3 separate regions of the Homo sapiens genome follow, and regions 1 and 3 are each linked to region 2. The links come from fine-mapping of genetic effects on gene expression. A gene starts in region 2. Each other region holds a variant in brackets. All regions are shown on one strand. Distances are from middle to middle. Region 1 overlaps ADGRL1-AS1 (ADGRL1 antisense RNA 1). Region 2 holds the start of PRKACA (protein kinase cAMP-activated catalytic subunit alpha). Region 3 overlaps ADGRL1 (adhesion G protein-coupled receptor L1).

Region 1 (2,803 bases), 25 kb before region 2:
GGCAGAGGTTGCAGTGAACCAAGATCACACTCCACTCCAGCCTGGGTGACAGAGCAACACCACGTCTCAAAAAAAAAAAAAAAAAAAAAAGAGTAGATAATTTTAACTATATGTGATTTGACCTCATGCTCTGATTTGAAATCGAATCCCGCATACAATGAGAGCCAAATATGACCAGTCCTTCTGTGTCTTTTACTCTCCCCTTCACTACACACAACCTAAACCCACTGTGCCTGACTGGACGCGGTGGCTCACGCCTGTAATCCCAACACTTTGGAGGCCAAGGCGGGCGGATCACCTGAGGTCAGGAATTCAAAACCAGCCTGGCCAACATGGCAAAACCCCGTCTCTACTAAAAAAAAAAAAAGAAAAAAAAATTAGCCAGTTGTGGTGGTGGGCGCCTGTAGTCCCAGGTACTCGGGACTGGGAGGCAGAGGTTGCAGTGAGCCGAGGTCACGCCACTGCACTCCAGCCTGGCGACAGAGTGAGACTCTGTCTCAAAAATAAAAATAAACCTGCTGTGCCTGACAACCTCTGACCCTCAGGTAGTTGTTAGTGGCACCCATTCATCTGCATGTGCCTAGGGACGGTACATTTATGCTGAAATGTATCATTTCAAAGCTCTTTCCTACATTTTGTCTCATTTAATTCTCAGAATATATGTTTTGTTTGTTTATTTTTGAGACAGAGTCTCACTCTGTTGCCCAGACTGGAGTGCAGTGGTGCAATCTCAGCTCACTGCAACCTCAGCCTCCCGGGTTCAAGAGATTCTCCTGCCTCAGCCTCCTGAATAGCTGGAATTACAGGCACCCGCCGCCAACCCCGGCAACTTTTTGTATTTTTAGAAGAGATAGGGTTTAGCCATGTTGGCCAGGTTGGTGTCAAACTCCTGACCTCAGGTGACCCGCCCGCCTCGGCCTCCCAAAGTGCTGGGACTACAGGCATGAGAGACTGGTCCAAAAAGCTATTCGGGAGGCTGAGGCAGGAGAATTGCTTGAACCCGGGAGGCGGAGGTTGCAGTGAGCCAAGTTCACACCATTGCACTTCACCCTGGGCGACAAAGCAAGACTTTGTCTCAAATAATAATAATAATAATAATAATTTTTAAAAATGCTGAACATCAAAACATTATAAAAATTAAAAGATGTCTGGGTGCGGTGGCTCATACATGTAATCCCAGCACTTTGGGAAGCTGAGGCGGGCAGATCACCTAAGGTCAGGAGTTCGA[T/C]ACCAGCCTGGCTAACATGGTGAAACCCCATCTATACTAAAAATACAAAAATTAGCCAGGCGTGGTGGTGCACACCTGTAATCCCAGCTACTCAGAAGGCTGAGACAAGAGAATCGCTTGAACCCGGGAGGCGGCGCTTGAACCCGGGAGGCCGAGATCGTGCCATTGAACTCTAGCTTGGGCAACAAGAGCGAAACTCTGTCTCAAAAATAAAAATAAAAATAAAAGATAAGGACACTGAGCAACAGGAACACTAACGAGGGGAGTGAGAACCAGTACCATGATTCCGAAGAGCAGATTAGCAGTATCTTGAAAAGATGAATACTTCCGCAACCCCCCGTCCAGCACTTCAACTCCTAGGTTTATCTCCCAGAGTAACTCCTACATGTGTTCAAGGAGACATAGATACCAACGCATACTGCAGCACTGTTTGTAATGGTAGAAAACTGAAAACACCCTAAATTTCAACCAAGTGAATTGATAAACACTGTCCAACAAAACTCTCTGTTCTCATGGAAATGTTTCCTCTCTATGTTCTCTATACACCATGGTGGCCACTAGCCACAGGCTCCTGCTGAACATGTGAAATGTGACTAGTGTGTCTGGGGAAGTAGATTATTTGTTTCGTCTAATTTTAATCTAAATAGCCACATGTGGCTAGTGGTTACCTTATCAGCACAGCTGTATAGCAGTGAAAATAAGTGAATTAGAGCTATACACGTTTCCACATAGATAAATCTCAAAAGCATTACACTGGATTAAAAAAAGCAAGTTTCAGAAGGCAGGACCCAGTGCCACCTTAGTGCCAGCTCTGTCAGGATACACCCAGTATGATCCTGCTATCAGAGGTCCCCAAGACCACCCTGAGGTTCAATGACTCACTAAGAGGAGTCACAGGATTTTGCTTGGAAGCGTAGGCATGGCTGTGATTTATGATAGTGAAGAGACACAAGGCACAATCAGCAAAGGGAAAAGATGCAGGAGCTGAAGTCCAGAGGAAACCAGGACAAGCTTCTAAGAGTCCTCTCCTAGTGGAGTCACACAGGACTCCATCAATTCCTACCGCCAAGTATGACAGCACGACGGATAGGCGGTCTACCAGGGAAGCTCATTACTCAGTGACCAGAGTTGTACTTGGGGGTGGTCGTGTACCAAAATGCCAGACTCCAGAAGGAGAGCAGGTGTTCAACATGAACCACATTGTTGGTGGAAACAGTTTAGGCACTCATCATTTGGGGAACGGCAGGAACCCTCCTGAAATCCAAGTTCCTAGATATCAGCCAAGGGCCAATCTTGCAAACAGGTCTTTCTAAGGATAGCAGTCTCAGGCCTGCTAGGTTAACTCTAAATTGCGCAGACACCATTTATATAAAAGTATAGAACATGACAAACAATACTATATATTGTTTAAAGATACACGCCGATATGCACAGAAGACTGTAAACACCAAATTCAGGGTTGTGGTTACATGTGAGGAAAAAGGAAGAGGAATGGGTTTGATGTAGGGGTATAGGGCCCTTCAGTTGCATCTCTAATGTTTTAGCTGTTAAGCTGGGTAACAGTATTTTGCTATAG
Region 2 (2,500 bases):
TCCCAACACACAAACAGCAATGCTTTTATTAAATTTTACTAAACCTTACCATGTATCTATCCATCCAGAGGCGGAGTGGTCAGCCATTTCCCCATAGTTCACAGAAAGGCTCTGACTCTCCCTCCCTGGAACTGTGGTTGATCTGGGAACATGGGGGCAGACAGCAGCTGGAGAAGGTGGAGGCTATTCAAGTCGAAGCAGCAGATCGGCTTGTAGTTAAGCCCAGCTAGCCCTTCCGAGTCGGGGTGACCTGGCTTCTCCCCTCCCCTGACCCTCTCTTAAGTGCTTCTCAATCAGGAGCAGTTCGGCCCCGCAAGAGCACATTCACCAATGTCAGGAGACAGCGGTTGCCACAGCCAGCAGGAAGATAGAGGAGGGGCTACTGGCATCCAGTGGGTAGAGGCGGGGGATGTTGCTCAACACCCAGTGGTGCACAAGACACCCCCCAGCAGAAAATGATCCAGCCTCACCGTCAGTAGTGTCGCAGTTGGGAAACCCCGACTGTCCTCTGCTAAGTGTGTACTGAAAGAGGATCCTGAAGGAAGGGGCAGGTTCCCTTCGCATTGCCCAGACAGGAAATACAGACGGGGAACAGGAGCAGGGAATCTGCCTGGCTGTACCCCAGATTCCTCATCTGTGCAATGGGAGTGATGATGGTAGCACCTACGCGATGGGAGTGTGGTGCGAAGGAGCGTTAAGTGGGTGCCAGCTCTTACTACTGGCAGGAGCCCAGGGCTAGGGCCCAGCAAAGGGGTGGACACTGAGCGCCCCTTCCCAGCCACCCCTTGCGCCGGGCCCGGCATCCTCCTGAGTGCGGCTGGGAAAACCCAGGAGGCCCCGCGGCCTGGCCCCCAAGCAGGCCTGGCCTCGGCCGCCCAGCGCCAGGCCTTATGAATGACGCCGGCGGCGGCCGGGCGACCTCTGACCCGCGCGCCGGCCGCGCCCCTCCCCCGCTGGCAGGTGGACAGCGGCTGCGCCGGGCAGGCCGCGGCGCCAACTCCGGCTGGCCGACAGCCGCTGCCGCACTGAGCGGGGGCGGGGGACTGCGGCGCGCGCGGGGCCGGCCGGGCGCCCGCCGGGGCCGCCTCCTGAGCCTCGGAGCGCTGCGCGGCCGCCAGCCAGCCTCCGCCGCCCCGCCCCGCCGGCCCGGGCCCGCAGACTGCGTCTCCGCCCCGCCCTCTCACCCCCGGATTGACACTGAGCGTTCTGCTGGGGGGCTTGGCGGACCCGGCACCTCCGCCAATCGGCGGCCTCGCAGGGCGGACCCCGGGCCCAGTCCAGCGTCTCGGCCAATCGGACGCGTCTGCCCGCCCAGCTGCGGCCTCGCGAGCGAGTGAATGGCCGAGAGTCCGCGGTGCGTGTCCCGAGGCTGAGAGCCTATAGTGGCGCGGGAAGGTCGCGGGAGGGCCAATGGGAGGCGGCGCTGAGCCGTCAGTCAGGGCGGCCTAGGCCAATGAGCGGCGGGCTGCGGGGGCGTCACAGACAGCGGCAGAGATCTTGGGCTGAGGTTCCCGGGCGGGCGGGCGCGGAGAGACGCGGGAAGCAGGGGCTGGGCGGGGGTCGCGGCGCCGCAGCTAGCGCAGCCAGCCCGAGGGCCGCCGCCGCCGCCGCCCAGCGCGCTCCGGGGCCGCCGGCCGCAGCCAGCACCCGCCGCGCCGCAGCTCCGGGACCGGCCCCGGCCGCCGCCGCCGCGATGGGCAACGCCGCCGCCGCCAAGAAGGGCAGCGAGCAGGAGAGCGGTGAGTGCCCGGGCTGTGACCCCGATCTTGGCCCTGCGCTGCCAGCCCTGGCCTTGTCCATCATCGCCTGGCCCCTCCCCCTACGGGGCCCCTCATCCTCTCTGCCTACCCCCCAGCGCCCCTTGCCCCGGCCTGTCCAAGGCTGGGGCCCGCGGGCCCGCAGAGTACCCCCTGTAGGGGTCCCCTTCCCCTAGGGCCGCCCCATGCTGCAAAGACCGTGCTCCCCCCCAGCTGTCACTGCCAACCATGGCACGTATGACCGCTGGGGCCCCACATGGGCCCCTGTCACCAGCCTACCCCCTCCTTTCCTGGCCCCTCTTCCCAGATTCTAATCCCCCCACTTCCTCACTCACCTCTCTCACCTATGGGATCCTCTGCCTGACCCCGACCCAGGTTTCTACCAGTTTGGGAATGCGATGAGGTCTGTCTGCCTCCACCGCGCAGGGACCTTGGCCACTTGCTGACCACACCCCTCCCCCCTCCAGCCCCCGCCATCTTTCTCCTGCCCTTTCCCTCTTCACCTTAGCACAGCCCCCCCTTCCAAACCCATCCTGCCCCCTGAACATTTCCCAGAGCCACCTCCAGCATTATTTTTTTCTTCTGTGTCACTTGGCATGGGGGACAGGATCTTTCTGGGTCCCTCTGCCTCTCTCATCCTGTCACTCTGTCATTCTGCTGCTCTGCTTGTGCTCCGTCCTCCAAGCAAGCGTCTGTCCCTGGCTGGGGTAGCAGACTGTTTATGAACGTAGAGAATTGCTTCA
Region 3 (2,500 bases), 59 kb before region 2:
GAATTTTCAGGGGAACACAGTTCAATCCATAACAGCATATCTGGTGTAGCCCGAGGACCCCAGGAAAACAGTCACTCTTATCAAGCAGAGCATTCCAAAGGCTCAGACGTCACTTCCTAGGAGCTGAGAGTCCAGGCACTCTCTGGGCCAGGTTAATGTCCTCACTACACAAGTGGGCACACTGAGAGGCCCATTCTACAGCTGAATCAACTGAGGCTGCCTCAGCTGGCTTCCAGGACACAGCCGAGCCAGAGGTGGTGTTTTCTTGGCAGTGGGTAGGGTCTTCCCTTCCTGGCCCAGGCCCAGGAGTGACACCATCCCCAACCCTCCCTGCAGGCCTGAGCCGGGCCGGGCTCCCGTTCGGGCTGATGCGCCGGGAGCTGGCGTGTGAAGGCTACCCCATCGAGCTGCGGTGCCCCGGCAGCGACGTCATCATGGTGGAGAATGCCAACTACGGGCGCACGGACGACAAGATTTGCGATGCTGACCCTTTCCAGATGGAGAATGTGCAGTGCTACCTGCCGGACGCCTTCAAGATCATGTCACAGAGGTGAGTGGGCTCTCGTGGCAGTTCCTGGATGAAGTGCCCGCCTAAAAGCACTGCACACCTGCCAGCACACCCGTTCACCTTACATCTTTTTTTTATGCATTCAACACATGTTTACTGAGCACTTAATAGGTGCTGGGCCCCATGCAGACGAGAATAAGACCCAGTACATCTCCCCACAGCCAGCCTGTGCCCCCGACAGAGGCCTATACCCATACATACACTGGGAAGTCCCTCCCCCCACCAGCCTCTTGCTTCCATAACTTCCATCCCAAGATTAGCCAGGGCAGTTTGTTTGTTTGTTTTTGAGATGGAGTCTTACTCTGTTACCAGGCTGGAGCGTGGTGGCATCTCAGCTCACTGCAACCTCCACCTCCTGGGTTTAGGCGATTCTTCTGCCTCAGCCTCCCAAGTAGCTGGGGATTATAGGCGCACGCCACCACGCCTGACTAATTTTTTTGTATTTTTAGTAGAGACAGGGTTTTGTAATTGGCCAGGCAGGTCTCGAACTCCTGACCTCAGGTGATCTGCCCACCTCGACCTCCCAAAGTGCTGGCATTACAGGCATGAGATGAGCCATCACACCCAGCCTTAGCCAGGGCAGTTTGGAGCTTGTAAAATATAAAGAACAGCAGGACAGAGCGAAGGTGTCATGGGAGGACTTTTCCCTTCATCCCAGACTCTTTTTTTTTTTTTGAAGATAGGGTCTCACTGTTGCCTAGGCTGGAGCACAGTGGCACAATCACAGCTCACTGCAGCTGTGACCTCTCAGGTTCAAGCAATCCCCCTGCCTCAGCCTCCTGAGTAGCTGGGACTACAGGCGCCTGCCACCATGCCTGGCTAATTTTATTTTATTTTTTGTAGAGGCAGGGTCTTGCTATGTTGCCCAGGCTGGTCTTAAACTCCTGGCCTCAAGCAATCCTCCTGCCT[C/T]GGCCTCTCAAAGCGCTGGGATGACAGGCATGAGCCACCGCACCCACCCATCCCAGATTTGAGAGCTCATCAGGCTACTCCAAGGAGGAGACACCTGAGCACAGATGATAGAAGCACAGGCCTGTGTGAGTGATTGTGTGTGGGGTGAATGCTTGAGCATGCAAGACTGTAACTTGGAGTGTGTCTGTGTGATTGCATGCATCTATGAGTATGACGGTGTATTTGTTTTATTTTATTTAGTTATTTAATTTTTGAGACAGAGTCTCAGTCTGTCACCCAGGCTGGAGTGCAGTGGTGCGATCTTGGCTCACTGCCACCTCCGCTTCCTGGGTTCAAGCGATTCTCCTGCCTCAGCCTCCCGAGTAGCTAGGACTACAGGCGCGCACCACCACGCCAAGCTAATTTTTTTGTATTTTTAATAGAGACGGGGTGTCACCATCTTGGCCAGGATGGTCTCGATCTCTTGACCTCATGATCCGCCCACTTGGCCTCCCAAAGTGCTGGGACTACAGGTGTAAGCCACTGCGCCCGGCCTGTTTTGTTTATTTTTGAGACAGAATCTTGCTCTGTCGCCCAGGCTGCAGTGCAGTGGTGTGATCTCAGCTCATTGCAACCTCCACCTCCAGGGTTCAAGCAATTCTCCCGCCTCAGCCTCCCGAGTAGCTGGGATTACAGGTACGCACCATCATGCCCAGCTTATTTTTGTATTTTTGTACAGACAGGGTTTTACCATGTTGGCCAGGTTGGTCTTGAACTCCTGACCTCAGGTGATTCACCTGCCTGCCTTGGCCCCCTTAAGTGCTGGGATTACAGGCGTGAGCCACTGCGCCTGGCCTGTGTGTGTATTTGAGTGTGAGTATGTGTGCATTTTTGAGTGTGTGACTAAATGTGTGTGATTGTGACTAAGTGTGTCTGTGTGTCTAAGTGTATGTGAACAGGTGTAGGTGTGTGCAGATGTGTGTGACTAAACATGTCTTTGAGTGTGTCTGAGTGTGTCTGTATGAGTGTGTATTGGAGTGTGTA

What was found. PIP is the estimated chance that this variant, and not a neighbour inherited with it, causes the effect. A credible set is the group of variants that fine-mapping cannot tell apart.
Region 1: its variant is the best candidate, but not a certain one, in a credible set for the expression of PRKACA in whole blood (TOPMed, PIP 0.55).
Region 3: its variant is the best candidate, but not a certain one, in a credible set for the expression of PRKACA in whole blood (TOPMed, PIP 0.54).

The regions. Positions count from the first base shown.
Region 1 is chr19:14,141,943-14,144,745 of GRCh38, reverse strand. The region is part of intron 1 of ADGRL1-AS1 (ADGRL1 antisense RNA 1); the gene reads right to left. Among named protein-coding and RNA genes, the nearest start is that of ADGRL1-AS1, 6.2 kb to the right of the region's middle. RefSeq lists a silencer at 1,475-1,769. The variant T/C (reference allele first, on the strand shown) is at 1,229.
Region 2 is chr19:14,116,741-14,119,240 of GRCh38, reverse strand. It overlaps PRKACA (protein kinase cAMP-activated catalytic subunit alpha), which reads left to right and starts at 1,479. Exons shown (of 10, transcript NM_002730.4): 1 at 1,479-1,739. The coding sequence starts at 1,694. It overlaps LOC124904642 (a long non-coding RNA gene), which reads right to left and starts at 1,027. Exons shown (of 2, transcript XR_007067144.1): 1 at 50-1,027. RefSeq lists silencers at 859-1,418, 1,829-1,898.
Region 3 is chr19:14,175,581-14,178,080 of GRCh38, reverse strand. ADGRL1 (adhesion G protein-coupled receptor L1) reads left to right here. Exons shown (of 23, transcript NM_014921.5): 3 at 337-550. Among named protein-coding and RNA genes, the nearest start is that of ADGRL1, 29 kb to the left of the region's middle. The variant C/T (reference allele first, on the strand shown) is at 1,478.